Linked DNA regions of Homo sapiens. The protein of the gene in region 6 interacts with the protein of the main gene of each other region in a pairwise test. Each region holds a gene or a part of one and is shown on either strand. Other genes may lie near its edges. The genes, in order: EED, NFIL3, AKAP12, PDLIM3, CSRP3, FHL1 and LAMA4.

Region 1 (4,091 bases), on a different chromosome or scaffold from region 6:
ATCACAATAAACTGGATAATTTTGGTGGATACAAAAGGACACAATTTATTTTTCTGAAACAGGAAATTAACAGATGGCCTTAATAGCTTCTCTGGCATTCACTAAATTTTATAAGGCTAAATTTTTCCCTTGTAAAGTGAAGCATAGCAGACTCCATTCAAATCACTGTTTTCTGTTAGTCAGAATGAGAATATCTGAACACTGGGGACTAGGGGAAGAAATAAACTGTAACTGCACAGTTACCAGGAGGCTATAGGAGATGTACAAAGAACAATTATGCACTTTTGTTCACAAAGTTATTTTTCAGCTTTAGGATTTTACTGGCCAACTTCTGGCATTTAACACTGACTTTCAGATGCAGTTTAAGGCACTGTTTTCACTTTTAAAGTACGTCTTTCGTTTTCTCATCATTTGAAAAGCCACAGCTTTAGGATTTTGAAATACTGCCTTAAGTATAAAAGGCAGCTAAAAACATCTTCCAGGTACAGTACCTAAAAGTAGTACGTTAATGTAAATAAATATGCACATGAAACTATAATTGACTTTTAAAAAATATGCTGAGATTAATTTCTCTCCTTTTACAGGAGCAAAATCTGACACACTGAGCATCGAATTTTTGCTACACAGACAGAAAAATGTCATAGTCATAGCTTCTTATGCTTTCCCAAAACTTTACTTATAAAAAATATATTTGGATATTTAGAAAAGGTTTTAACTTACATATGTATGAGATAATACACATTTTTCCTCAGTATAGAAAAAAATAGCCTCACATTTAAAAAACAAACTGGACATATATAAAAGAAAATATCTTAAACACCAGTAACCCCTTTTATAAAGTAAATAAAAATACTATTGGGGACAGATTAATTTAAATAACCAAAACCCCCTTTTCCCTAAATATTTAATATTAAAAAGTTTAAAAATTTTTTACACCTTTTTCTTTGAAAACAGTTATAAATAAAACAAAGGACAGAAACTGTACAAAGTAAAACATCTGTTTCAATTTATACTTAGTCAAAGTTAATGGGTTACATTCAGTTCTTTTTAAAAACTGATGCCAGAAGTGGCTTATGTTTTTTAAGTTTTACTAAAATATAAAGAGTAATAGTTACCCAAATCTTATAATTTGAATGCAAACAATAAAGCAAAAACATCCTGCAACACTGTCACATATTTAAATTAAAACAACAAAAAACAAAACCAAAAAACTAAACATGGGATGGACTAAAATAGATACGCAGTCTGAACTACAAAAAAAAAAACCCTTCAGAAAACATTGTAACTTTAAAATATTTACAACTTGACAGAGTATCCTGAGTACGAAATGCGTGCCACAGAGAAATAATTTCTGAAGCCTAGCATTCAGCCCAAAGGATCTTTTTTTGCACATACCTTGAGACTATTTACACATTTGAAAGAATATTTGCATTTCTTTGACTTCCATTTTCCCTTTCCCCAACTTTTCCTTCCAGGTGCATTTGGCGTGTTTGTAGGTGTATCAGGGCGTTCAGTGTTTGTACCACTTTCTATACTGACAGCGTCATCCTGTAAGCAGTAAATGAGGAAAAATTACATGAAACAGCAATACTGTTTTTAGCAGTAAATAACTCTACTGGGAAGATGCTGACTGACCTAAGAGAAATAATTTCTACAAGAAGAAAAAAATGTATTCTTGCCTCCACATAAGGATAAACATAATCCAGCTACAGGTTAGAAGGTTTGTAGATATTTTATATTTCAACAAAAATGAAAATGAAATAAATACTAATGAGAATAATGGAAGAGTAATACTGTCTTTAATAAGGCACTGGTCTGTTCCAGTCACTTTAATACACTGTATCAGTGAATCTTTACAGCTCTTTACAAAAGGTACTGGAAGTGCTGAAAAAGCCTAACTGGTCTCTTGGCTGGTAATTCCATCCCAAAGCTGTGACTCTTAAATCTGACTGATGTATATGTCTTCATAATGTATTTGACTGCTGCTCAGTCTGGAGCATGGAGCTGGGGAGCCGTTTGAAGCAGGAGTGTTAATGGCTTCTACATTAGATGTCACTTTTTAAAATCCTGTTATTCAAATTCTGCTTATAACGCAAAACATTTAGAATTTTTTTAAAGTGCTACATATATTCTATGCTATTTACAAGTTAAAACTGTCTCATTGTTCTAAAGTAATAATACTCATAAATCAGAACTCCAGAGACTCTCAATCACAATTAAAGTAAATCCTTCCAAAAAAAAGAAATGACTGCAGGAAACCTTGAAAATTCTCCTAATTCATACCTTATCTCACACACGAGTGGCCCTCTAATCTCAGCTCTCTAATCTCAGAAGAGGATTCCACTACCTCCTGATTACAGATTCCAATGTCTCCTTTGGAAAGAAAAGATTTATTTAATCTAGGATCTTAGGGCAGCAGTTCTAAAATACATTCCAGAGGAAGCCTTTTTTTTTTTTTTTTTCCATGAAATGCCTATTAAACAGCCTAGGAAACACTGCTTTAGGGGCTATTTTTAAATTATTGCTTCCTAAAGTTGGTTTTATATAGAAGGTTAAAAAATATCATAAATGAAATAATAGGCGGGTAGCAAGCAGTACGTACTCAACAAATATTTGAATTGTAATTTAATGTGAATATCATTAGTCTTTACAGAAATAGAAAATGTGGTATTTTAATCTCTTTTTCTCTCCACCTTTTCAGTTGTATTCACATAATTAACATCAAACGTAGAAAACAATTCTGTATCTCAGTGGAAAACTATGCATTATCTATATAGCACATCCTTCCAAGTTACCAGACTATAGCCCTCCACTATGTCTTTGAGCTATCTTACAACTCTTTTTTGAGACAGGCTCTCCCTCTGTCACCCACTCTGTCCTTGGTTCAACGCAACCTCCACCTCCCAGACTCAAGTGATCTTCCCCCCACCTTAGCCTCCTGAGTAGCTGGGACAACAGGAGCTGGCCACCACACCCAGCTAATTTTTGGTAGAGACAGAGTTTCACGATGTCGCCCAGGCTGGTCTCAAACTCCTGGACTCAAAGGATCCTCCCACCTCAGCCACCTAAAGTGCTGGGATTACAGGTGTGAGCCACTGCGCCCAGCCACAACTCTTTTTTCATTATGAATAACTGATAGACATGTAAATTTTGTCTCTACAGTAGAGGTTCAAAATGTCTTCCCTTCCACTCAAGGGAAAAAAAAGTTTCTGTCTCCATTTGGAATTCATCTCTCCATTCCTTTACTCCATATATTAATAAATTTGTACTGTTTTGATTTTGCGGGTTAACCATTACTGTATAACATTTGCCTGGTTCCCTCTGAGTAAAAGTTTCAACATGTGTTCACTTGCCATTTTTTCTGTAAAATTACCTTTTAACACTAGAGAACTGAAATTTTAAAAACTCTAAGACGTTTTTATATATCAGTTTCTTTACATTCTGGCTAAACACTGAGCTGCCAATACAGAGGCCACACAAAACATTCGTTAATAGGGCACGTTGCTTATTTTACTTCTGATCACTTAATTTACCCATCTCCTCCCAAGGCAAATCAAGATGGAATCAAATGAAAATGTAATACAGCCACCATGCTTCCATTTTATCTTTAAACTAAAATCAAGTCTTTGCTGAGTGTCTAATATATGTACAGGGTGACCTCCATCCTATTCCATTCTCAAAGTAAAGAATGATACTGTGCAACAGACATGGTACTACCATCTTCACTTGCCCAACGAGGAAAGAGACACAGGGCAGTAATTTGCACCTGCATCTTGCCACAGGGATTCCCTGCATCTTTGCTTTTGCTTAAGCAAAAAGACAAGTCTCCAGATTCAGCCCTCTGATCTTACTACCAAGGCATCCATTAGTACTCTCGCAGAAGCCAACTACTCTGCAGTCATATGATCTCAAAAAGTTCAATAAAATGGCAGGTAACACAATAAATGTAAAATATGTGCCTGTAATTCTCTGACTCACATTAACAGTAGTAACTGCTCAGGTTACCTGAACTCTAACACAAAAACATATTCCCCCACACCCCATCTGCTTTGGCCTTTTGCCATTATTTGGCTCCCTCAAGAGTAAAACTA
Region 2 (4,091 bases), on a different chromosome or scaffold from region 6:
CTCTTTTTCAACGGGATTAGAAAATTCTCTTGCAACTTCGGTGTTTTCTGACTGAGTTTTTTCACTCCCCATTTCCTCTGGGTTGTACATGTATAGTGAATTCTTTTCTTATTTCATCTCTGCTTTTAAATACTAGATTGTTTTCTCATCCATGAAAAGAAGTAAAGCATTTCATTGACGCAGATACTGTGAATTTTACCCACAGGAAGAAAATGTAGGGTTAACATATTGCTAGTATTCATACTTTAAAAGTATAAAGAGATGTGAATTGATTAATTGATTTGATTTTTTCATGAAAATGACATTTATCTAAAAAATAAGCATCTGCTGTCTTACTGGAGAGGTGGCTTACAGTTTAACATAACTTAGGTTTACCTTGAAGACATTTTTTTTTCCTTTACTGTTATCTGTATTATATAACAGGGAGAAAACAATACATTCAGAGAGTAGAGGGAAAATAAGATAATTCTATAATGTTTCCAAATCATTGGGCATATCAAATAGTATTTCATCTTCTATTGACAGAATTTTAAAAACAAAATATATATTGCAATTTGCAATAAAACTTACCCTTTATAGATAATTAATAACAAAATGTTCTCAGAGTAGATTTTAATGTTTAGACTATTAGTAAGATTTCAGATGATTGAAACAAAGCATGTTTATTCTTTTCTTTTGTGGAGCTTGGATTGTTAAACATTAGTTCTGGGAGAGACCAGGGAAGATAAAGGTCTATCATAAACATAACTAATGAGATAACTCCTCAAGGATAAATTTGGTCTAGAATTATTGTTATGAGGTTATATTCTTTTATAGAATTTTCTAAATCAAATCTTGTACTTAATTAAAAACAATAGGGTAATCTGACTTAAACTTTAAAAATCTGGGCTTATGAAATATAATTCTTGCTATATAATTCTTGCTTAGAGAAGTAGTGTGATGGACTATACAAAAGCATTAATTAGTGATGGCACCTTCGGAGTATGTATGGAAAAATATGTCAACTGGTAGGTAATAATACCTGCTCTTAAATTTCTCTTTTTTATTTGTGTTTTCAAGGAGAGTCATATCATCTAATGTGTGTAATGAAGTTAATCGTGCTGAATACACTAACATCATAGAATTGGCATGTAGTGTCAATTATTCACCAAAAAAGAAACTTAAGCAATGACTAATATACCACAACATTAGATGTTGATTTGAAAAGATGATGCATAGATGAAGTAATTGTTAAATTAATCATAAGGGAAAATATTGAGGCTTGAAATAAATTTGTTAGGTTAGCATAAATCCTGAGGCTTTTTGAAGGCATCGTAAACTACTTTTGCATTTGCTTTAAGTTCATTGTTGAGGGGCATAAGGAGAGCTCAGAGCCCATCTGTGCCCAACTGCTGTGTGGTCTTGGGAAGGTCAGCCTGTCTTCTAGCTGATTAATCTGCAAAATGAGAGGGTCAGAGAGACACTGTCCCCCGCCTCATGTTGAAAACAGATTACACTCTTGGATTTGTTAAAAAAAAAAAAAAAAGAAGAAGATCATAGGTGACAATGTCCACAGCTATCATATTTCTTTTTCTCTATTTAACATAATTAGAATAGCCAGGAGGTTAAAATTTTAGTAAAGATATGAAAATTAATAAAATGTTTTCTCAATTCATAAATAGTGCCAGATCTGAAACATCTAAGGAGGATGGAGAAAAGTTCTAGATAGTATCTTTGCTGGCTAAAGAAGTTAAGACAGCATCTAAGAGAAGTTAAGGAGCCAGGCGTGACGGCTCACGCCTGTAATCCCAGCACTTTGGGAGGCTGTGGCAGGCGGATCACCTGAGATCGGGAGTTCAAGACCAGCCTGACCAACATGGAGAAACCCCGTCTCTACTAAAAATACAAAATTAGTTGGGCATGGTGGCGCATGCCTGTAATCCCAGCTACTTGGGAGGCTGAGGCAGGAGAATCGCTTGAACCCAGGAGGTGGAAGTTGTGGTGAGCCAAGATCGCGCCATTGCACTCCAGCCTGGGCAACAAGAGCAAAACTCCTTCTCAAAAAGAAAAAAAAAAAAAAAGAAGAAGTAGTTAAGTTAGCATAGTGCCTTACTGCGCCCAAAGTAACTTAGTAAAAGGGTATGTATTACTCAGAAATGAAAGTGACACAAAAGAGAACTGTGTGTAAATGAGACTGCATTGCAAAGATGCAGAACCACCTGTGAAAGTGTAGGAGAGAGTAAAGGAACTGGGCCTGAATGTACGCTCTGCCATTTAGCTATGTGACACTGGGCAAGTCACTTGACTTCTCTGAGCCTTAGTTTTCTTATCTGAAAATTGTCACCAAAAGTGAATGAAAGAAAGCAGGTCAGGCTCCCAGTGCCCATTCTGTGGTAAGTGTTCAATAAATGGCACCAATTATGATTGTTTTTGTTATTATCTCCATGACAAGAAGAAAGCCTGCACCCCAGGCCCATGTTTGTGCAACTCTGCACTCACACCTGGTTCCCCTCTGCTCACCTGTTTGTCTCCCACCCACCCACGACTGAGCGCCTGGTCTCGGGAGTTTGGTTTTTCTCTCCCTCTTTATGTGCCCCTAGTCTCCCCTTGTGCCCAGTACACAGTAGGTGCTCCATATGTGTTGAATAAACAAATTAATGAATAAGAGAATCTCTCTGTTAATAAGTAAAATATCTTCTTTACAATTCACATAACATTAAAAAGAAAGCATCAAAAAAGTTTTCTGTTTACAAAACTCTCTTATATAAGGTATATGGGTGACTGTCAATGAAATGTTGAGCACCTAATATCTTCAGGTTTTTGCTAGAAGACAAGTATATTTTAATTTCCGCCCTGAAGTAATTCGCAGTGTAGTTGGGCACAAAAGACAAACACGTGGAAACACACACAGTGTATATGATTGTGCCTGTCTCCGTATCATCCCATAATGCTGATAAACTCTTTTCAACACTGCAAGATTATTTGATAGATAATATTACAGAAAATATCCTAAGATAGTGTGGTGATTTGCCATTGAGTTGTAGAGACCATGAATGTAATACATACAGATGAGAGCAGAATCACAGATTTATAGTGACATGCCATGAAATTCAAATAGGAAGAAGATGATTAAAAACAAATGAGGTGGCCTGGCGAGGTGGCTCACGCCTGTAATCCCAGCACTTTGGGAGGCCAAGGTAGGCAGATCACCTGAGGTCGGGAGTTCAAGACCAGCCTGAACTCCCCATGGAGAAACCCCATGGAGTTTCCCCATCTCTACTAAACCCCATCTCTACTAACATGGAGAAACCCCATCTCTACTAAAAATACAAAAGTAGCTGGGCTTAGTGGCACATGCCTGTAATCCCAGCTACTTGGGAGGCTGAGGCAGGAGAATTGCTTGGACCCTGTAGGCAGAGGTTGCGGTGAGCCAAGATCGTACCATTGCACTCCAGCCTGGGCAACAAGAGTGAAACTCTGTCTCAAAAACAAAAAAGCAAATGAAGTTTTCTGTAGGTTAATGTACCAACAAAGTTGTAGAGATGATAAAGTAGTCATATAGTACTTAGACACCTAGAAGACATGAGTTAAGGAAATTTTAAGACAAATGGGGCTATTTCAGTTAAATAGAAATAGGACCTATTGTGAAGGCTCCTTCCCAATTGGGCCCCAACCTTGAAAAGGTCCTAGAAGTTTAGGAAGAGTAACTAAGGCAGACAGAATGGCGGGGCATTTCAAAAGCATTACTGTAAATCTAGTAAGTGAGGCAAAATAAAGGAATCTGATTTTTTTTTTTAAGAAGGAACAAATAAGATAACACATGGAAGAGAAAGATTCTCAGGTGGAGAAAATAACCAGAATAATAGTCTGCAAGGGATCATATGATGTTTAAAAACTAAAAGTGGAAAAAAGTAGTGGCCAAGAGTATAGTGGAGATTTGAAAGGTGCCTTGGGAAAGGTCAGTGCAATTGTCTTCTTTAACTGGGATATCTTCCTCTTTACTTCTCCACTCATTTTACTTTAGCAGGAGGACTTTGCTGAATGGCAGAGTGCAGACTTCAACAGAGGAAAGAATCCATTCAATATGTAAAGGAAACTGGGTTTTCATATTA
Region 3 (4,091 bases), on a different chromosome or scaffold from region 6:
TCACTATGCTGCCTAGGCTGATCTTGAACTCCTAGGCTCAAGTGATCCTCCCACCCTCACCTCCCGAAGTGCTGGGATTATAGGCATGAGCCACCATGCCCACCAGGTGTGAGCCACCATGCCCACGAGCCACATGTTGGTATTTATGTATGTATGAACTCACCATAGCCATGAAAGAGACAAGGGTAACACTTGAGATGTAGAATATAAAACTATTTTAAACCATGGGCTTGCTATTATAATTGATCAGATGTTTAGCCACTCCCACAATGCTTTCAGTTTATTGCACAAATAGACACAGCAGAAAAAATTTAAAAGTAAAAGGAAATCAATAAACAGGTTTATGCATATATGGAAACTTGAGTTTTAACAAGAGGTAACTTTTTAATCAATGGTACTGGAGCAATAGGTAACCCATATAAAAATGAATTTAAGATTTCTCCTTCTAGACATCATCAGTAGCTAGTGGAATAAAGATCTAAATATATGAAAGAGAGAACTTTAACTTTTTTAGAACTGAACTTCTGTTTCCCCAGTTCCTAGCACAGTTCCTGGAGTACAGAAGCTAGTAAAGAAGTATTTATGAAATGGCCAGGCGTAGGTGGCTCACCCTGTAACCCAGCACTTTGGGAGGCCAAGGCAAGAGGATCACTTGAGCTCAGGAGTTCGAGACCAGCCTTGGCAACACAGTGAGACCTTGTCTCTATTATATTAAAAAATAAATGGAAGAAATTAAAACAGAAATATTTATGAAATCAAGATTGAATAGTAAGTGGCTGAGAAAGCCAGAACTCTATTCTTCAACAACTTGGTAGGTTTTAAAATTTCTTTACAGATTTTTGGACCAGTCAAATGCCATAAACTAAGCCCTTAGCTACTGTCTACTTATTCAGCACAAGGGAAGTTTTAAAATGATAAATAAGGGAAGAGGGCTTAGGAGGCAATGAGATGGAAGGGGAACACCGAAAAGTCACAGCTTCTGGCTCAGTAGGGATACGGGCATTTCACTGAACACCTACTTACCTTGAATGGCACAATCTATTTTAAAAAGCCTCCGTTAGCAATCCACTTTTTTTTTTTTGAGACAGAGTCTTGCTCTGTCGCCCAGGCTGGAGTGCAATGATGCGGTCTCGGCTCACTGCAACCTCCACCTCCTAGGTTCAAGCGATTCTCCTGCCTCAGCCTCCCGAGTAGCTGGGATTACAGGTACACACCACCATACTGGCTAATTTTTGTATTTTTAATAGAGATGGGGTTTCACCATGTTGGCCAGGCTGGTCTTGAACTGCTGACCTCGTGATCCGCCCGCCTCGGCCTCCCAAAGTGCTGGGATTACAGGCGTGAGCCACCATGCCCGGCCAGCAACCCACTTTTTAATATAGTCAAACAAAGGAATGAAATTATGTGGAAGAAATATTTTCCTTTATTTTATCCTCCAGATGTGTGAAGGAAAATGCTACTCTTTCATCATGTGAAACCGTCCCTCTCACCCACACAAGTTCCAATCTCAGTGAAATCTGCACATGCTATCACCCAGTGTCACCTAGACCTGAACCTCTCCCTGGCCCTTATTCAGCTCTTACGCCTACTCCTTCCCCTCCCTTAAGGTAATGGAGCCCACACCCCACACATTAGAATATCTGATGAGCATTTTAAGACTACAGAATCCCAGCACAGTGGCAGGAGCTGGTAGTCTCAGTTACTCAGGAGGCTGAGGCCAAAGGATGGCCTGAGTCCGGGAGTTCAAGACTAGCCTGGGAAACACAGTGAGACCCTGTCTCTCAAAAAAAAAAAAAAAAATCACAGAATCCCAGACCCTGAGATTGCCTGGGATTCTAATTCAATAAATCCAGGATGAGGTGTAGGGGTGTCTTTGAAAAGCTCTCTAGGTGATTCAATAGCACCACCAGGTTTGGGAATTAGGAAAAATTTAATCCTTCAATACTCCCAGTTTGCAGTATTTGCATATAACAAATAGATGGTCAGCCAATAAACTGCAGTAATCTCTCCTTCTTAAATTTTGGTTTATTTCGTTTTGAAATCAAACATGAAACTGACATGCTACTACAACTGGGATTAAGATTAGGCAGAGAGAAACTACAGGGTTTCCCCCATTTAAAAAACATCACAGAGAAATCACAGGGAAGACAAAAAGCTTTGAACCTGAAATGAATACTTGTATTAAGAGGTGCCTAATGGTGTCCCGGTGTCCCAGATGGTTTCCTGTGCTTTGAACACCTACATTTTTCTCAGAAAATCCATGTATACCATCCAGTTAACAGAGCCAGGCTGTTTGCCGTGAGAACGGGAGAGGATCCCGGGTAAGCCTTCACTCTATTGTTTTCCCAAGAGGTGGATTTCTGCTGCTTCCAATCCCTGATCTCAACATTTCACGGATCATGACCACAAAGTAATTTCTGGCAACTAAATGATTTTAGATTGTTCCAAGAGAAGAAATTTTAAAAGTGATAGCTAAAGAAGTAGGTCATCCTCCAAGCAAATAAATTTAAAGATGGTTCATTAATTTGGAAAGGAAAAGGAGCAAAGGAGAGTAAGACTGCTCTACCTCAGCTGCGTTTTTATTCTTGAACTTGCTTTTTTCCAATTTGATTAATTTCTGGGGAAAAAGTTTTTTTGTTTTTTTGTTTTGTTTTGTTTTTTTAAATAGAGATAGGGTCTTGCTCTGCCACCCAGGCTGTAGTGCAGTAGCATGATCATAGCTCACTGCAGCCTCATACTCCTGGGTGGAAGCAATCCTCTCACCTCAGCCTTCCAAGTAGCTAGGACTACAGGTACACGTCACCGCACCCAGCTAAATTTTTTATTTTTTGTAGAGATGGGGTCTTGCTATGTTGCCCAGGCCACTCTTGAACTTTCTCTCAAGTGATCCTCCCTTCTTGGCCTCTCAAAGTGCTGAGATTACAGGTGTGAGCCCCCACACCTGGCTAGAAAAAAAAATCTTTAAAAATTAATTGGGCAGGGCATGGGGGCTCACACCTGTAATCTCAGCACTTTGGGAGGCAGAGGTGGGAGGATCACTTCAGTCCAGGAGGTCCAGACCAGCCTGGGCAACACAGTGAGACCTTGTCTCTACCAAAAATAAACAAAATTAGCCAGGCATGGTGGTGTGCACTTGTAGTCCCAGCTACCTGGTGGTGTGTGCCTGTAGTCCCAGCTACTCAGGAGGCTGAAGTAGGAGGGTCATTTGAGCCCAGGAGGTCGAGGCTGCAGTAAACCAAGATTGCACCACTGCATTCCACACTGGGCAACAGAATGAGAGCCTATCTCAAAAACAATAAATAAATAAAATTAAAGTTAAATGAAAATGAAAATGAAAATTAATTAACAGTGAAACAAACCATAGCCTTTCATGCTCTGACAGCCAGACCAGTGCATGATCAGATGGCAAGCACATGGCAGAGAAACATGATGAGGCATTCAACTTCACAGTTAAAAATGCACCAAGGAAACTGAGGTACCATTCTTCACCTAGCACATTGGCAAGTATTGGAAAATCTGATACCCATGAAGGCAAAGCATGGGAAAACGAGTGCTGATCTCCACGGTGGAACTGCAAAGTGGTAGAACCTCTTTGGAAAGTCAATTTAGGAAGGGTTAAATTTTTTGTTTTTGTTTTTGTTTTTGTTTTTGAGACGGAGTCTTGCACTGTCACCCAGGCTGGAATGCAGTGGTGAGATCTCAGCTCACTGCAACCTCCCCCTCCCAGGTTCAAGAGATTCTCCTGCCTCAGCTTCCCAAGTAGCTGGGATTACAGGCACCTGCCACCACACCCAGCTAATTTTTTGTGTTTTTAGTAGAGACGAGGTTTCGCCATGTTGGCCAGGCTGGTCTCGAACTCCTGACCTTGTGATTCACCTGCCTCGGCCTCCCAAAGTGCTGGGATTACAGGCGTGAGCCACCGCACCTTGCCGGGTTAAATTTTTAAATGCATATAAAGCTTGCAATTCAGCAATTACACTTATGGACGAGGACAATCTAAATATAAACCCAAGGAATTGGTTAAATCGTTACAGGGCTTCAACCCACAAAAGGGAAATTTATGCACCCAAATTAATAAGAATGGGGGCAGT
Region 4 (4,091 bases), on a different chromosome or scaffold from region 6:
GTTGTTAACTATAGTCACCCTGTAACTACACTGTTAATGAACTTCTTTAATCAAAAGTAAGTTGGACATGCTAGTGCTGGACATGGCGGCTCACACTTGTAGTCCCAGAACTTTGGGAGGCCCAGGTGAGCAGATCACCTGAGATCAGGAGTTTGAGACCAGCCTGGCCAACGTGATGAAACCCCATCTCTACTAAAAATAGAAAAATTAGCTGGGCATGGTGGCACATGCCTGTAATTGCAGCTATTCAGGAGGCTGAGGCATGAGAATCACTTGAAGCTGGAGGCAGAGGTTGCGGTGAGCCAAGATTGCACCACTGCACTCCAGATGGGTAACAGAGTGAGACTGTCTCAAAAAAAAAAAAAAGTAGTAAGTTGGACATGCTAAATTGTTAACAGCTCAATTTCCCTGGGGTTTTACCATTAGCTATAGTTCTTTTGATTATTTCATCATAACTGAAGCCTTTTAAAAGACTGGTGTTTTCATATACAAATATGTAAAATTTTTAAGGGTAAAGCTACAATTAAATACATATGTAAGGTATTTTAGATCCAAATGATAAAATGCAATCCTATGAGTGGTTTTTGGACAAGTTGCTTCCGGAAGTATGCCCCAAAATGTCTGTACACACCCCAGAGAAATTAGCAATCTGTCAAATGACGTATCTGGGCATGAAGTAATTGAGTGTGTTATCAACCTTACAAGTGGCCTTGCCAAGTCACTAAGTCAACCCCAGAAAATCTCATTAGCACCTGCCTTTCCAGGTCATCAGGAACAGGTCGTGGTGACCCACGGTGCTATCCCCAGTGATATCCACAGTGACTGGAATCCATGAAAACTCGTTTACTTAAAGGATCAGTTTAAAAGATCTTTTTAAATTGGCCCAGAAATTTATAAAAGTTCATTCTTGTTTGCTTAGGGTTCATTACTCATTTATTTAATAGACATGGGCCTGATTGATAAAGGAACTGGGAATGCATGTTTAACTAAAATTACATAGTACACACATATGCATATACTGTTGACCCTGAGAACACGGGTTTGAACTGTGCAAGTTCACTTATATGTGGATTTTTTTTCCAATAAATATGTTGGAAAAATTTTTGGAGATTTGCGACAATTTGAAAAAAGTCACTAATGGTAGCCTTGAAATATCAAAAAAATTAAGAAAAAGATTTGCCATGAATGTATACAATACACATAGGTAGTAGTCTATTTGTGTGCTAATAGACTGTTTATCTGTAAAACTTCGGTTCAACAGTAGGCTATTGGTAGTTAAGTTTTGGAGGAGTCAAAAGTTATACATGGCTTTTATAGCAGAAAAATATTACTAATAACCGCTATAAAACATGGCATAAGTAAAAGTTCTAAATTGATCATTGTTTATCTACCCAGTACGGGCACTATGTCTGGCACACAGTAGGGTGAGAGTAGTTATAAATGCTTGTTGAGTAGGTTCATTACTGGGAGGCCGAAGTCTCCCAGGATTTAACTCTGTGTTTCAAATCCCTAAACTGATTTCATAAGCTTCATTACACTCAGGTTAAATCCACATGATCCTGACTAAACTGCACTACAACTGAAAATGTACTCATATTCTTTTACCAGCTGAAGTCCATTTCAAGAGTCACTATAGATCGTACAAAAATGGTGAATAGGCCACTTGATATTTTGGTATGTGATCTAAACAATGTACAGATTGGGTTTTCAATAGGTTCTCAAAAGGCAGGAAGTGAAGGAGCAAGCTGGTATTCACCTGTCTGGTTTAGGTTATGTAGGTAGTTAAACTGGATAGCACAAGACAAAAAAAAAAAAATTTAAACCCATTTAGTGACATGAGTTCTCCAGACTAATCCGGCTGCAACATTGCTGGAGTAGAGAAAGTTACTGCTCAATACCTTTTGGTTTCTTATCTTTATATGGGCTGAAGTTAGCATTAATACCTCTAGAGAGTAAATGCAGATATGGGGCCATACTTGAGACCAGAGACAATCTTGACTTAGCGGTAAACACACCATATACATCCATTCTCTGTCTTGAGCTTACAGCAACACTAACTGGAAAGTATGATAAATATTTACATTAATACTAATATTTCTTTTTGCTTTGTCTTAAATGACTATGCTTTTTTTACAAAAATCTCTTGGTATCTCTCATGCATGTGGAAAAATGGACTTTTTAGTCACTAGCATGTCAGTTGTTAACTGACCCCTATCCAGTTTCCAAATAGAATGTACAATCTCCCTAGTTCTTCGATGTGCATGACTGGCCTTTGATGTTTTAATAAGTCCCTGAAATGTATCTTTAAAAGGAAAAGGGAAATATGCCTGGGAATAGATGCGTGCTTCTGAAATTGTGCATAAAATAGCTATGTAAGAAATATAAGCATCGAAAGAGTGAAACACCACCTTATTTCTCCTCTAATCATTAATTTCAAGGTGATAAGCATTTATTGGTTTTTTCTAGGGCTTGTATTAAACCACTGAACAATTGTCTTAAAGTATACTCCTCACAGAACTAAAGAGTAAAAATAGAAAATGTTAAAATAGTAACAAAATATTTACAAGATAGCCTTAAAACATAATCTGTACCATAAAACCTACAAGTTACCAATTACTATTCAATTAAAGTTCAACCGTATTACTGAAATATACTTCTGATTTTGAAATGTTGAGCCCAAATATGTGATTGCATCTTCATGCTGCATATTCAGTGTTCACTAAAACTTTAATTTTAAATGTTGCACTTCAGAAATGTAAAAGGATGTCCAGCCAATGTAATTTTCCTTCATCACTTGTGATATTGACCAGTTTTAAAGTCTTTGGCCTATTTTTAAAAAGTGAGGATAGCTGCATCTTTTCTACTTCATATACAACTTTTCTACATGTAACCCTCAAATTACACATTGCCTAGTGAAACAGAGCCAAAAAATGCAGTATCACCTGTACCTTTTAATTTTATTAAACTTTTTTCAATCATGAATTTTTCACCGTCTTCCCTTTATAAATAAATTCTAGTGACAAATCAAGATTTGGTTTTATTTTGATGTAATTCACCTCTCACTTTTGTCTTCAATTCCTTTTAACCTCTCTGTACGTGTTCTCTGTGTTCTTCTGTCTGGACTGTCTGGCTCCCGGTGCCATCTCTGTGTAACGTGTATCCATTAACACAGTGGATGCAGCACTCCCTCCGGGATTGACTGTGGCAGTGGACGCAGCACCCCTTCTTCTGTCAGTACTGTTAGTACCATTTGCCCAGGTGACTTGAAAGTTGCGGCTAAGCTGGCCCCTAACATTCCTTTGGAAATGGAACTTCCTGGTGTGAAGATTGTACATGCTCAGTTTAATACACCTATGCAGTTGTACTCAGATGACAATATTATGGAAACACTCCAGGGTCAGGTTTCAACAGCCCTAGGGGAAACACCTTTGATGAGGTAATATGAGTCTCTTTGAACCATGGGCATATTAACTAAACACGTGGGCAATGTCAGCTTTACTGGTGTCTTTTAACATTGTCTTAATGGAAAGAAAGCTATGTGAAAAGCTTTTTTAAAATACTAAGGATTTACTGCAAATATCTAGGCTTGGAAAGAAAGCTATGTGAAAAGCTTTTTTAAAATACTAAGGATTTATTGCAAATATCTAGGCTTGGTGATAAAGGTGATTTGAGGAATTATCTGTAGAGCTTTATGTGTCAGATAGCAATAAAATGAAATCAGGTAAGGACCAAATGTATATGTCTCTCGAAAGCTACAATGTACTTTACAAATATCTGGTGTAATACTTCTCAAAGTTATTTATAATCTAGTATACCCTATGTCTGTCCTTTGGGGATCAAAAATTAGGAAGGAGGTGGGAGGTTTAGAGGAATTTTATGAGATGATTCTTCTCTCTTCTGATAGCAGCTTGTGGAGAGGTCATTATTTACTCATTTACAATGTTTATTGTGCATAAAGGTTTTTAGGTGAATACCCTCAGGCTGTTAATGTAGATATTTAATTTTTGCTGGTCTCTTTTTGACTAATTTTTTCTTTGTTATAACTATTTGTTCACAGTACTTTTGCCATAAAGATTTTGATTAAAAAGATT
Region 5 (4,793 bases), on a different chromosome or scaffold from region 6:
CACTCTTAATTTGGGTAAGAAAGATGACATAGCCACAGTGAAAACCATGGGCTTTGGAAGAACCAAGCTTAAGTTCAGAAACACTAACTGTTGAACACTGGGCAAGTTGCTCAAATTCTCTGACCCAGTGTCCTCAATGCATGTCCTCATGTAAAGACAATATGAGAAGGCTTGTCTGGGAAGGTTGTTTTCAGGTTAAAGAAGATAATAATAGCTAAGACACCATATAGAATTACTTAATACATAGCAGGAATTGAATAATTGTAGTTACTTGCATCATGACTATTATTGTTGTTATTACATTATCTCCAGTTTTCAAGTCTGTTCTTTTAGAACAAACAACTCACTCCCTGCTTGTTTTCCATGGCCCTTCTGGTTCAGACTGTGAATCAGCTTTGTTTTTCAGCCTTTGGAGTGTGCGGTGCCCCAGGACAGGTGTGCCCAGGTCGGGGTGAGAGTCGGTCCCCTTGCGTTGTTGGATTGGGTTGGAGGCAGCATGCCTAGCCAGGGGCCCTGTAGTCTGGGGAGCTCATGCCCTTCAGTTCTCGGTGTAGGACATTCAAGGTCAGTGGCTGCTTCCTCCTGAGCTTCTGAACCCAGATATATGACGTCCTCCGGCCAGAGGCCCTTTCACAGAGCCCAGGAAGAACAGGTTGCTCATTGCCAGCATGGAAATAAACCTGAGTGTTGGCTCTCAGCCCCTTTTAAACTCAGACATGGTAGACATACATTAAATGAAGGCTGTAGAACATGGGCATCTTACACCTTTTGTGAAATTATATCTGAAGCGTGGCCAGCTTTTACTTCCCAAAACTCACTCTTTGTTCTATTTTGACCTCTACAATTTATTTCTAAAGACCACATCATATCCCAGTTTACCTCCTGGCTCTGCCGCTTTCTCAGCCATGTGATGCTGGGCAATTCCTAAGCTTTCTAGAACTTTAGTTTCTTCCTCTGAAAAATGAGTTTTGCATAACTTTTTGTGACCCTTAAATAAGCTAGTACTCGTTCCATGCCTGCCTAGGCCATAAACGACCATCAAATCATGATCAACCCTTTCCCACAGTAAAGCTCAGAAAAGGCTCCATCCTCAATGCCCTTTAAGACCATTACTGTCTCCCTTCCTGCCATTCTTCACTGGGATGAATAACTGCAGTTTTTCACATTTGCAGGCATCACATTTCTCTTTGTGCATGAAGCCCAACCCTCTATACAGTATTTATTCACAGATATCTGAACAGCACACTTGTAACTGGAAATCTGTCTGCCTCAAGACTTGTATTTCCTGTGTGTTATATTCCTAGCCCTGGGTCTTTCCTCTTGTAAAACAAATTAATTATCTTCTAACTCCTGGTCAGCTTCTTACCCACTCTGACCTCTGGACTTTTATCAGCACGCTTGTACTTAGCAGGAAACCCCCCCAAAACCCACTGGGTTTGGCTGTATGCCTTTTCTCAACGTTCTCACATATTTGTACGGTTATATTAAACTTTACAAAAGTACTTTCCTATACTTTATCTCATTCAATTCTCACAAGTCCCTTTGATAGAGGTAGGCTACCCTTAGTTTTATTGTTCAGAAAATGGAAACTCAGATAAGTTAAGTGATATTCAGAGCTATAATTTGAACGGGCTCTATAACTGATTATCTTTATTTTCTTCTTGAATATCCCAGGATTTCTGAGTTTCTATTCTATCAAGATTCTGTCTCCACTTCCTCCAAGGGAATTTTGGCTATTTGCTGGCTGAATGCTGCTGCAGCTCCCTCTTCCTTCATTCCTCTCTTCCTCCCTTCCTCCCTCCCTCCTTCTCTCTTTCCTTCCCCCCTTCTCTCCTTCGAAGGAGGAGGCCCCTTGCCCTGTGTCTCCTGTTTCTGATGGATGACACGTGTGTCTGGGCTGCAGAGCACCTGTCTGCCTGAACCCCAGGGAGGACACAAAGCCCTGGGGCTCAGCTACACCTCCTGCCCAATAGCCTGGGCTCATTGCCACTGACCACAAACGACTGAGTTGTTCAGAAAGGGAACAAAGCCAAGTCATAAGACTCCCTCACATTTTCTGGATCATAAAGCAGTTCTACATGCATTGTGATGAATTGTATGTACCCAGCATTGAGATTTAATCCCAGATGTAAACTGAGGACACAGGCCATCCCCAATTTCCCACTCTTCGTGCTGTTCACTTATACCCTTCCCTGCATAGAGCTGCCTCTACCTCCCTCCAGCCCTGACATAGGAGATGGTCCATACATGCTTATTAAATTACATTGAATCGTATTGCAGAGACAAGGTTCCTCAGACCAGTAACTCAACTCCTCCTTCTTGGAGGAGTCACCACCTTGGCTCAGGAACAGGGCAGAAATTAGAGTCGGCAGCTTGGATCTTTCAGCAGCATTTCCACTCAGACCATTGCTTAAAACCTCTTCTTATTCTCAATCACACCTATGTCTGTCATTCACTGGGATATTTTAAAAAGTCCTTGACTAAAACCTAGAGGAAACAGTGGGAATCCTAACCACTGGATAAATTATCCTCCCATTTAATAGAGCTTTTAATATATTTCAACATAGCAATGTCTTTTTGGGGTCCAGTTTTGATTAATTTCAAAAGATTAAAAGCAAACTTGTTGCTGAATATCTTTGGGATACAAAAGTCTATTTAAAATCAACAAGCCCAAAATCTCAGTCATTCACCACGACCTTTTGAATAACACCATTCCAGGTAAATTGAGCATGGGAAAGCTGTCTTATATATTGCATCTAGTACAATCGCTTATCGCTTTGTATCTGTGCAGTACTTTACAGTTTGGAAAAAATGTCGCCAATTTGTATTGATCCTTGCAGAAGAGGAGACCAAGCCCCTGAGGGCAGGAACCTTCTCAAAGTCTGTCATCCATGAATTATATGGTGGTTGTAAGACGAGAAGGTCAGCAGACTTTCCATTATTTCCTCCCGCTTTCCAGTTGTTCCAACTAAGATGACAGGAAATGTAATTCCACCACGTAAGTAGTTTTATAATGAGGATAATTCTTTACTCATTTATCTGCCTATGAGGTCCCTTAAGCCCCCTAAATATTAACCATCCTTGCAGGAATTTTTTAATACCTGCTAGATCCACACCAGAGTCAAGTACAACTTGAGCCTCCTTGCACAGAACCAGAGAGGGTGCTGGCACTTGAGACGTAAAATGTGCTCTTACTCTATGGGACCCTTTATAGTCCAAACCAGCCACAGAACCAACCCACCTCCAGCTCAAATGTCTGCCTTGCTCCACTCACCTGCCTGTGTGGACTCCGTTCAGCTCAACTGAGTCTGAGGGGCTCTTGTCCTCTTTAAATATATGAAGGCTGTCACCAGCCTTGGCCTGCTGGGGGAAGGGCAGGAGGGAGGCCAAGGGAGAGGGTGAATGAGACGTGAGTAACACAACTGCTATCAGGGGCTGAAAATAGACTGTGACCAAAGCCCTGAGTTTTGTCTCCCCCAACCCCCCAGCCAGCTGTGAGCCTCTTGGAGAACCGAATCACTTGGGTTCTATTTGCACTGCCAATTGCTTATGGCACCAAGGGATCAATTTATGAAGTGTGTCATTTCTGATCAAGTGGTTGGAACAGGAACAAGAGCTAAGGGTTTAACATCAAAAATCATTTCTCCAGGCCCCCACCCCACTGACCTTCCTGGAAATCATTGCAGGGTACCTGCAAATGAGTCATGTGCCATATCTGGGAGCCTCTGGAACTTAGAGCCACAGGTCACCACACTCGTGAAGAGAACTCAGAGCTAAAAATAAGGGTGATGGGTGTCTGAAACGATACTTAGATAATCTCTTCAAAGAAGCTTGGGAGAAAAAAGGTTGGCACATCACTTGGGACCTGTCACTCCATCTATCCTAGGAAACGAAGTTTTCTCTAAAAAGTTTTGATTTACTTTGTTATTATCCTTTTCTATTTAAGAATTTGATACAGCAGTGCATATTTATCATCATCACATTATATTTATAACATCTTGATATGTCTCTGTAGACCCATATTTTCTTTGGAGGTCTAATTTTTCTTTGTCTGGAATTCACACCGTTTAAATTTGATCAAGCACCAGGGACTGATATAAATTATGGCATTGAAAAGCTGACAAGAGGTTCAGAGATGTGAAGACCAATTCTTCATGTTATAGATGAGGAAACTGAGGCACCAAGCCCCTTCCACTCATGTTGACCCGGATGTTGAGGTAAGGTACATGTAGAACCCAACCGGGAGGTTCATGATCCAGCCTTCACATCAGATATTAGCCCTTTGGTTACCTGCCCACAAAGCAATTGTTGAAGGATAGAATATTTCACTGTCAAGAAGGTTGCAGTAATTTCACAAAGACGGCCGTGGCATAGCCTCCTATGAGATATCCGTGGTCTGTGTTTTCACTAAATGGCATCTTCATCATAAAGACGAGGCAATCACGAGGATTTTAGAAAGTTAAAGCTAGAAAGGACTTTAGAAATCGTCTAGGATAGTGGCTTTTGTTTGTTTGTTTGTTTGTTTGTTTAGAGAAATGGTCCCGTTCTGTTGCCTAAGCTGGAGTACAGTGGCATGATCACAGCTCACTGCAGCCTCGATCTTTTGGGCTCAAGCAATCCTCCTGTCTCAGCCTCCTGAGTAGCTGGGACTATAGGCGCACACCAGCACGCCTGGCTAATTTTTTTGTAGGGATGTGGTTTCACCATTTTGCCTAGGCTGGTCTCAAACTTTGGGGTCAAGTGATCTGCCCACCTCGGCCTCTCAATGTGCTGAGATTACAGGCTTGAGTCAC
Region 6 (4,091 bases):
CTGCCATGTTTTTCACACTTTAAAACCACACACTTTCAGTACTTTGATATTACCAGTGCAAAGTTCTTCATTGTTTAGTCTCATAGTTCTAGAACATGACTTGCTCAGAGTTCTAAGCATCCAGATGATAAAATAATCCACAGCTCACCAGTGAAGATAGAAGTAACAAAGGGTGTTGAAAATGTCAGACAATGAAGTCACTGGCCACTGTATCATTCCTATAGTACATGGTCTTAAACCAAGCAAAAGGAAAATTAAATGAATCAACCCCAAGTTAATAGTACCCATAAGAAGAGTTTCATCTCTTGGTATTTTTGAATCCTAGCTTTAGGCAAGATTTTTTCACTCTGAGTTTGAAAACTCTAGGGTCACCTTACACCTTAGATTCCCCACCACTCTATACTTAAACCTGCAGTCTGTATCCAGATGGAGAATCATTTCAAAGGGCATATTCTTTTAGAATACATTTCTACAATTCACTTGAGTCCTTTTAATGTGTGTGGAAACAATTAGTCTAGATAAAATAGGCACTTCTAGGAATGTTGGATTTGTTGCATAATAAGTAAACAGGCTAGAAATACTTAAAGTATGTTAACAATGTCTATGTCAAATTCATGAACTTTCGTATTTGTTTTGCAATAAATCAAATTAAGTGGAACTCTGGGCAACCTGAATTAGCTTACGTCACGTACTTCTAAATTTATGATTATTTGTTACAAAACAATTTCAAACCCTCATGCACGCAGTGTGCTCAGGATGAAGTTGGAGGAGATACTGATCACGTCACAATTTTGTATAAAATATGAATGATGTGCTGATGTGCACAAGACCAAAACAACTCTAAAAAGCCAGCTTATAAATGACAATGCTGAGACACACATGCAAAGATCCTGAGTGTGGGCTCCCTGAGTCTGAGCTACTATCAAGCTTTGACTTCATGAGGAGAGAAAAGCTTGCTCTTTCTTTCTTTCTTTTTTATTTTAGACGGAGTCTCGCTCTGTCACCAGGCTGGAGTGCAGTGGCGCAATCTTGGATCACTGTAACCTCTGCCTCCTGGGTTCAAGTGATTCTCCTGCCTCAGCCTCCCGAGTAGCTGGAACTACAGGCATGTGACACCACACCCAGCTAATTTTTGTATTTTTAGTAGAGACAGGGTTTCACCATGTTGGCCAGGATGGTCTCGATCTCCTGACCTCATGATCCACCTGCCTTGGCCTCCCAAAGTGCATTTTACAGGCGTGAGCCACCGCACCTGAGATTACAGGGGTTACAGGCATGAGCCACCGCGTCCATCCCAGCTTGCACTTTCTTTTGTTTGAAATGAGAGAATAGGGAAAAATGAAGATAGCATTTTACCTCTTTGTTGTTGTTGAGACAGGGTCTCGCTCTGTCACCCAGGCTGAAGTGCAGTGGTGCTATCCTGGCTCACTGCAACCTCCACCTCCTGGGTTCAAGCAATTCTCCTACCTTAGCCTCCTGAGTAGCTAGGACTATAGGTGAATGCCACCACGCCTGGCTAATTTTTGTATTTTTAGTAGAGACGGGGTTTCGCCATGTCGGGCAGGCTGGTCTTGAACTCCTGACCTCAAGTGATCTGCCCACCTCGGCCTCCCAACTTGATGGGATTGCAGGCATGAGCCACCATGCCCAGCCAGCATTTTACCTCTTCTTTTGGGCTCTCTTCAACCTTACAGAATTACATGTACTTAGGCATTTATTTCTTAGGGAATAATTTTTTATCCCCTTAGCTATTTCTAAGTACATGAAATGTGAAGGCCTTTAATCTTCCAGAACTTCTAGATATGTCTGCCTTGACCTATTGCTGTTATCCGGGAATGGGAGTGTCAGCCATCATTGAAGGAAACAATTGCTACACATCATCACCATGCTTCTTCCCTTACCACTTGTCTTTGTGGAGGGCATGTTTGCCCTCGGGCAGCTCTTTGACTAATTTTAATGTCTCGGTGTAGCCCTCATCTGTACATAGTAGGGATGCCAGAGTAGGTATTAGACATGAGCAGGGCAAGAGAGGGCCCCCCACCCAACCAGGAATGTCAGGCGGCCATCAGGTGAAGGTCAGATGGTTGTTAAACTATCTCTCGCTAAAATAATAATTGGTTGCAGCTGGCACCAAGGAAACACGGTCCCTAATAGACAGAAACACCTGAAACTGATGCTCAGCCACGTCCCCATGAGATCTCAGGAGGTGGGTAATTGGGCTCAAGCATGTGCACTAAGAGGCAAAATTGCGGTGTTTAACTGGTATAAGACCTACCTCTGGGAATGCTCTACTGCTAAGGGAAAAATCGCTTAAAGTAAGCATGCACACAACTTCAGTAAACACCACGCATGCGGCACTTCCCAAGTGCTGGCAGGCCACTGGGCATGCGGACAGCCCACCCCAAGGGAAGAATCAGGAGAGAAGTAATATAACACCCGAATCATGCCAACATATAAAAGCCCAGGTCAAAGGTCAAACCATGCACTTTTTGAATCTCTCAAGTAGCCTGCTTGGTCATCTTCTAAATGTACTTTACTTTCATTCCTGCTCTGAAACTTTATTTTATTTTTTGAGACGGAGTCTCACTTTGTCACCCAGGCTGCAGTGCAATGGTGCAATCTCTGTTCACTGTAACTTCCGCCTCCCAGGTTCAAGCAATTCTCCTGCCTCAGCCTCCCAAGTAGCTGGGATTACATGCGTGCACCACCAAGCCTGGCTAATTTTTGTATTTTTAGTAGAGACAGAGTTTCAGCATGTTGACCAGGCTGGTCTCCAACTCCTGACCTCAAGTAATCCACCCGCCTCAGCCTCCCAAAGTGCTGGCATTACAGGCATGAGCCACCGTGCCCGGCCTCCTGCTCTAAAAGTTTTTAATAAACTTTCACTCCTGCTCTAAAAGTTGCCTTGGCTTCTCCCTCTGCCTTGTTCTTCCTTGAGGAGGCAAGAAATGAGGTTGCTACAGACCCACAGATTCCCCGCTGCTAACATACTTTGGTGCCGAGTGACTTGGATACATTCCCTAGTGCTAACAAGTGGGGTTTCTCTATGACAGAAAGTTCTGCTCATACACTAGGGGGCCCCAGTACCTAATCCAGGGCTTTGTATACAGGAATCACTCAGTATATGCCTGTTGATTGACAGATGGAGATATGTTACCACAACTAAGTTTCTAAAACTTTGGTATGTGGATAGTCACTGAAAGTGGCTTCTGATCCAATTATCTGAGCCTCTATTTTGTCCATACCAACCCTATTTCAGGACCACACTGATTTCCTTTCTGTAAGGACTTCTTTCTTGGGCCTATTCTCCTCTGCTTTCATGGACTTATGAACCTAATGCAATATGACATACTATTTCCTGATTTTAAAAATCATCTTATATGACGTGTAAGGTGCTGAAGTCTAACCTACACCTTAGGTCCACATAAATGTCCCCTGATTTTCTAAGACAGAAAGCATCATTATTAAATAATTTAATTAAAAATTAACTAAATTAAAGTTTTACAAGCTTAGAATACAGTTAGAAATGTGGCTGGGTGATAAAATTTTAGACATTTATTCCAAAAGGGTAGCCTGACTTTCTATGCCTGCTTCAAAAGACACATCATTTTCACTTAATAAACAAGCTTCCTTTTTCAGAAAATTCTTGAACTACATCCAACATGCTGAGAGGTGCCTAAATAAACCTCAGTATCTTAATTAAAAGTTTTGGCTTTCAATTTAATCATGTACACATACAAGTAATATAACATTACAACATTTGTTTTTTTCTTTTTTCTTTTTTACTATAAACCTCTCATTACAGTCGATTTGTATTTAATAAATCTTGCTTGTGTTTTTACATGTATTTTCTCATGTATTTCTTCCTATTGTTCATCTTCTCCCTCATGCCTGAGTTGCTCAAACTATGAATATTTAAGGAGAATGTGAATATCATGAGTAGGTAGCATTTTTCTATGTGTTTTCCATGAAGGGTGTAATGTACAGTGTAAACAATGAACAACAACCCAAATGGAAAAAAATCAGGTTATTTCAGATCTGTTCTTCACTAAATCCAACCTACCAGTACATTAGTGACTCCACATATAAAC
Region 7 (4,091 bases), on a different chromosome or scaffold from region 6:
TGTTGCCTAGAGTCATAATCAAAGAAAATGATCAATTTCAGTGAGAGAAAATAAAGATGTAATCTTTTCGCATTAAGTCCACAGACCCCCCTGAATTCTATCCATGAACCCTTGGGGGTGGGTCTATGAATTCCAGGTTAGGAACTTCTGATATACAATACATAGAATATTTTATAAAGTGTTTGAAATGAGGCATTCTGTGTGTCTACGTGTGAGTCAAAATTAATCTGAATAGAAAATCACTTCTAACATGCATTACAAATTATTTTTAATAGGCAAAACAATTATCACAAAGAAGTTTCCTCAGAGAAAAACAAACACTTACCCCTGAAGCATAATAGAATAGTAACCCATTTGGTTGTAATGTTCGGAAATTAAAACCTCCTTCAAAGCCATCAAAGAAAGATATTTTCTGAATTGAAGCAATGAAGCTCTGTCCATTGAAATATGCTCTGCGAGATATCTGTGTGCCAGAACAAGTGGAGATAGTGTTTTTGAGAATTATCAAATGCTTAAAACTATCAATGTTTCACATACGGAAGGCCTTGCCTGTTAATTTCTACGTAAATAGTTTATTTTCCCACTTCTGGTCTATGTTGGAATTCAGGCATACACTAGGAGCTCCTCTGAGAGATGGGGTTTCATCTTCTCCACTGACTCCAACCTGAGTGAACAATGATGCTAGCACACCCTCTCTGGGTGTTAGATGCCCCACCCATGGAAAACTGAAGCAAACGAACAAGTCACAGAGGAACCCCATGCACAAGAGCCCTTCTAGCTTAATGGTTCTTCTTTCTGGTGGTGGCAGAAAGGAACCCAAGGTGTACCTAGGATCAGAGAGAAGCTGAAAAGAACTTTTCCAGCTTTTGAGAGTGATAAGTATTGTGTCTATTAAAAAGCTTTTGACTGAGTGGTTCTTACAAGTGAGTCTTCTGGGCATCCATAACCAACTCCCAGGGTTTCTGTCTGCTCCAGTAAATTGAAGTCCTTCTTTTGGAACTGGAAGCCCTTCATGCATCCTCTGAAGTTGATATCTAGGGGAAGGTGTGCTCTGAGGGCCCTGGAAAAGAAAGTCAGCCTCACTGATACAGCCATGATGATGATGTTACCCTGCATATGTAGGCTATGGAATTTGCATTTATTTATAGTCATTTGTAATGGCTTTATAATCATTCATATTCTCATGCTTTCTTTGATAGGCACACAGCAATGTCTAATCTTTGCCTATAGAAGAGTTTTGTTCTACGTCAAGCCAATTTCTTCCTTACAGTTTTCAAAATGCTCTAACTTACATTATCTCATTTTATCTTTATAACAATTCAGTGAAATAGATGGAGATGCTATGATTTCCCTTTAGCAGACGATTATTAGGTTGAATCATAGGAACTAACATGTTACACAGAAATATAATCAATTCTTAGTAATTTCACAGGGTTTAACGTAATGAAACTAAGAAATGAAACTAAGAAATAAATTATTCTCTTATGTCACAAGTGATGTTAGGATTTGAACACAGGTCTTCAGACTTTTATTAATCCACGTCATTAATGAATCCATTTTGGCATTATTTCCAACACATCTGTAATCAACAAAGTTTAGGGGAGTGTCTTAATGTTTCATTATACATAATACACAACCCTTTGGATAACCTTAAAAATTTGTGTAGCTCAGATGCTATTGGAGAGTTCAAAATGGGTTTAAGGCTAAAGCAAAAGTAAATGGACAAATGCTGTTTTGTCTTCACACAATACACATGTTCCACCGTTCCTATTATTGATGAGAAATACTGCATTAGATCATGTTCTAAGAGTAATACAATAATTGAAGAAATCTGTGATTACATCTATGCGATGCTAATTTCAGGAGGTCCTGAGGACTGACTGCAGAGGGCCTGAAGGTACATGAATGTGTGTACCTGTGCCTGTCCCTGTGTGTAAAAGTAGCAAGTAAGGGTGCGTACACTGTTACTAGACCTCTCCTGGATGTTGCCAGCCCAGTACATTGCTAGGAACAAACAGCTACTTAACAAAAAGCCTTACCTGGATTGTAAGATTTCTGGAGGAGCTCCTCCAATGTATATATCTGTAAAAGGTATTTTCATCTTTTCATTATCCATGCTCTTGACATGCCTTCTGTCAACTACCAAGATCATTTTCTTATCATTGTGGTAAATGATTGAGATCTGGGAGAGATAATATATAGTAAGCCTTGATTAACTATTTAATATTCAGTTCTTTGATGACTTCTATATATTTTAATTCTCCTGGTATACTAGCTGTTCTTCCATGCCTTTGTGCTTGTTTGTTCACAAAATGGGGAATAGATAGATTTTCTTTTCTCACAGACTTGAAAACTCTTGCTTCTACAAGCAGCAGTTCACACTTTCTGGGAAAGGAGGTCTGTATGAAGAGGAGCCAGCCCAAGAAAAATTTTGCGATTAGACCTATTGTTTCCTCCTGCTCCTTCTGAGAGGATTCAGGAAAGAACTATAAACAGGTGCCACCATTCTCTTTTTTTTTAAAAAAACAACTTTATTCAAGTCTAGTTGACATACAAAGAACTACACATATTTTATGTATACAATTTGATGAGCTTGGACATATGCAAACACTCATATCATCTTACAATCAAGGTAAGAGACATATCACACATTTCCCAGCATTTCCTTGTGTCCCTTTGTGGTGTGTGTGTGTGTGTGAGCATGTGTGTTACGCACACTTAACATGAGATCTATCCTAAATAAATTTTAAATTAGTTTTAACTATAGGCTCCATGCTGTACAGCAGATTTCGAGAACTTACTCACCTAGCACAACTGAAACTGTATACACATTGAACAGCAATTTCTTATTTCCCTATCCCCTAACCCCTGGTGACCCCTATTGTATTCCCAAGCAGGTGCCTTCTGGAATCTAGATTGCATGTTACCAGGTGTAATTTTTTTGGTGACACAGTGAGCAGTTCTAATGAATCTGCAAAAATGCTAGTCAGAGAAATAGTTAAAATATTCTTTTATTGTAAACCATTCTCATGAGGCTATGGACTTTGAACTGAAAAGGGAAATACAGTCTCCTACCCTTCGCATTTTGGTTCAACTTAAAAGATATTATGCCTTGTATACACTTTATTAAGTTGTATATTTAAAATAGTTAATGAAAATGGATGAAGTATATTTTCAGTAGTCTGCACATCTGTTTCAAAACTAAAGGGGATTCTTTGTGAGTTCTCTTTATAAGGAAAACTGTGCTAGTATTTTCTAAATTCTGGATAAGTGGTTTAAAAGGAAATTCTGTATTTACTTATATGTATTCTTGTTAAATTTGGTGGGGCTCAAAGGATAAGCAAAAAAAGGCTGTGTATCTACACTCTGGCTCATTCAACAAATGTATAGAAGTATCCTGTAGGAATACCAATTGAGATATTTAAGATTAATAGAAGCCTTCTGGTTAATTAAGCAATTAAAAGGAATCTTTCAGTGACTTTTAAATTGGAACATCAACAGGAAAAATACATCCAATGTTTTAAAGTAAATGTTTTCCTAGGGTTGAGAAGATGAGGGTCCTTCAGTTGCTCTTTAGATATGAAAGTTCTCAGTTTATTTACCATCCTGCCTGTCTCATTTGACTGCCTGATTAGATCAACAGATCTAAGTATAAAGAACAAAAACAAAACCAACCAAACTACAATGATTTGTACCTCATGGTATTTTGCATCATTAATTTGAGCTTTCTTTAACGTATCTTCAAGATGCACAGGGCCACCGCTGAATCCAAAATCATAGAACACATGTAGGTAACCATTGCGCATTTCCAGTCTGAAAAACATACTCTGAGGAGAGAAAGGAATTGTAAGATAGGAACATCTGTTATGCGAGTAGAGTCAGATTTAGCTGAATTTGAGAAATAAGACTGTATTCTTTATTACTGGAACTATTTGAAGACTAAGAAAGTCTCATGAAATTCTTATGAAATAAAAGTGACAGTGTCTGGGAGTGGTGGCTCACACCTGTAATCCCAGCACTCTGGGAGGCCGAGGCAGGTGGATCACTTGAGGCCAGGAGTTTGAGACCAGCCTGGCCAACATGGCAAAACC

What was found.
Region 1: the proteins of FHL1 (region 6) and EED interact in a two-hybrid assay, tested with the Homo sapiens proteins (one large-scale study listed by BioGRID and IntAct).
Region 2: the proteins of FHL1 (region 6) and NFIL3 interact in a two-hybrid assay, tested with the Homo sapiens proteins (one large-scale study listed by BioGRID and IntAct).
Region 3: the proteins of FHL1 (region 6) and AKAP12 interact in binary tests that used the Homo sapiens proteins (3 or more experiments, as listed by UniProt).
Region 4: the proteins of FHL1 (region 6) and PDLIM3 interact in a two-hybrid assay, tested with the Homo sapiens proteins (one large-scale study listed by BioGRID and IntAct).
Region 5: the proteins of FHL1 (region 6) and CSRP3 interact in a two-hybrid assay, tested with the Homo sapiens proteins (one large-scale study listed by BioGRID and IntAct).
Region 7: the proteins of FHL1 (region 6) and LAMA4 interact in a two-hybrid assay, tested with the Homo sapiens proteins (one large-scale study listed by BioGRID and IntAct).

The regions. Positions count from the first base shown.
Region 1 is NC_000011.10:86,247,753-86,251,843, reverse strand, and holds part of EED (polycomb protein EED), read right to left. Parts: intron 2,396-4,091; exon of another isoform or gene 2,284-2,395; intron 1,549-2,283; coding exon 1,396-1,548; intron 1-1,395. UniProt on the Homo sapiens protein: Polycomb group (PcG) protein. Component of the PRC2/EED-EZH2 complex, which methylates 'Lys-9' and 'Lys-27' of histone H3, leading to transcriptional repression of the affected target gene.
Region 2 is NC_000009.12:91,413,593-91,417,683, reverse strand, and holds part of NFIL3 (nuclear factor interleukin-3-regulated protein), read left to right. Parts: exon of another isoform or gene 1-2,118; intron 2,119-4,091.
Region 3 is NC_000006.12:151,245,977-151,250,067, reverse strand, and holds part of AKAP12 (A-kinase anchor protein 12), read right to left. Parts: intron 1-4,091. UniProt on the Homo sapiens protein: Anchoring protein that mediates the subcellular compartmentation of protein kinase A (PKA) and protein kinase C (PKC).
Region 4 is NC_000004.12:185,507,644-185,511,734, reverse strand, and holds part of PDLIM3 (PDZ and LIM domain protein 3), read left to right. Parts: intron 1-3,172; coding exon 3,173-3,436; intron 3,437-4,091. UniProt on the Homo sapiens protein: May play a role in the organization of actin filament arrays within muscle cells.
Region 5 is NC_000011.10:19,198,680-19,203,472, forward strand, and holds the start of CSRP3 (cysteine and glycine-rich protein 3), read right to left. Parts: upstream 3,305-4,793; 5' UTR 3,275-3,304; intron 1-3,274. UniProt on the Homo sapiens protein: Positive regulator of myogenesis. Acts as a cofactor for myogenic bHLH transcription factors such as MYOD1, and probably MYOG and MYF6.
Region 6 is NC_000023.11:136,199,645-136,203,735, reverse strand, and holds part of FHL1 (four and a half LIM domains protein 1), read right to left. Parts: intron 1-4,091.
Region 7 is NC_000006.12:112,132,428-112,136,518, forward strand, and holds part of LAMA4 (laminin subunit alpha-4 isoform 1 precursor), read right to left. Parts: intron 3,828-4,091; coding exon 3,696-3,827; intron 2,183-3,695; coding exon 2,040-2,182; intron 1,061-2,039; coding exon 922-1,060; intron 464-921; coding exon 326-463; intron 1-325. UniProt on the Homo sapiens protein: Binding to cells via a high affinity receptor, laminin is thought to mediate the attachment, migration and organization of cells into tissues during embryonic development by interacting with other extracellular matrix components.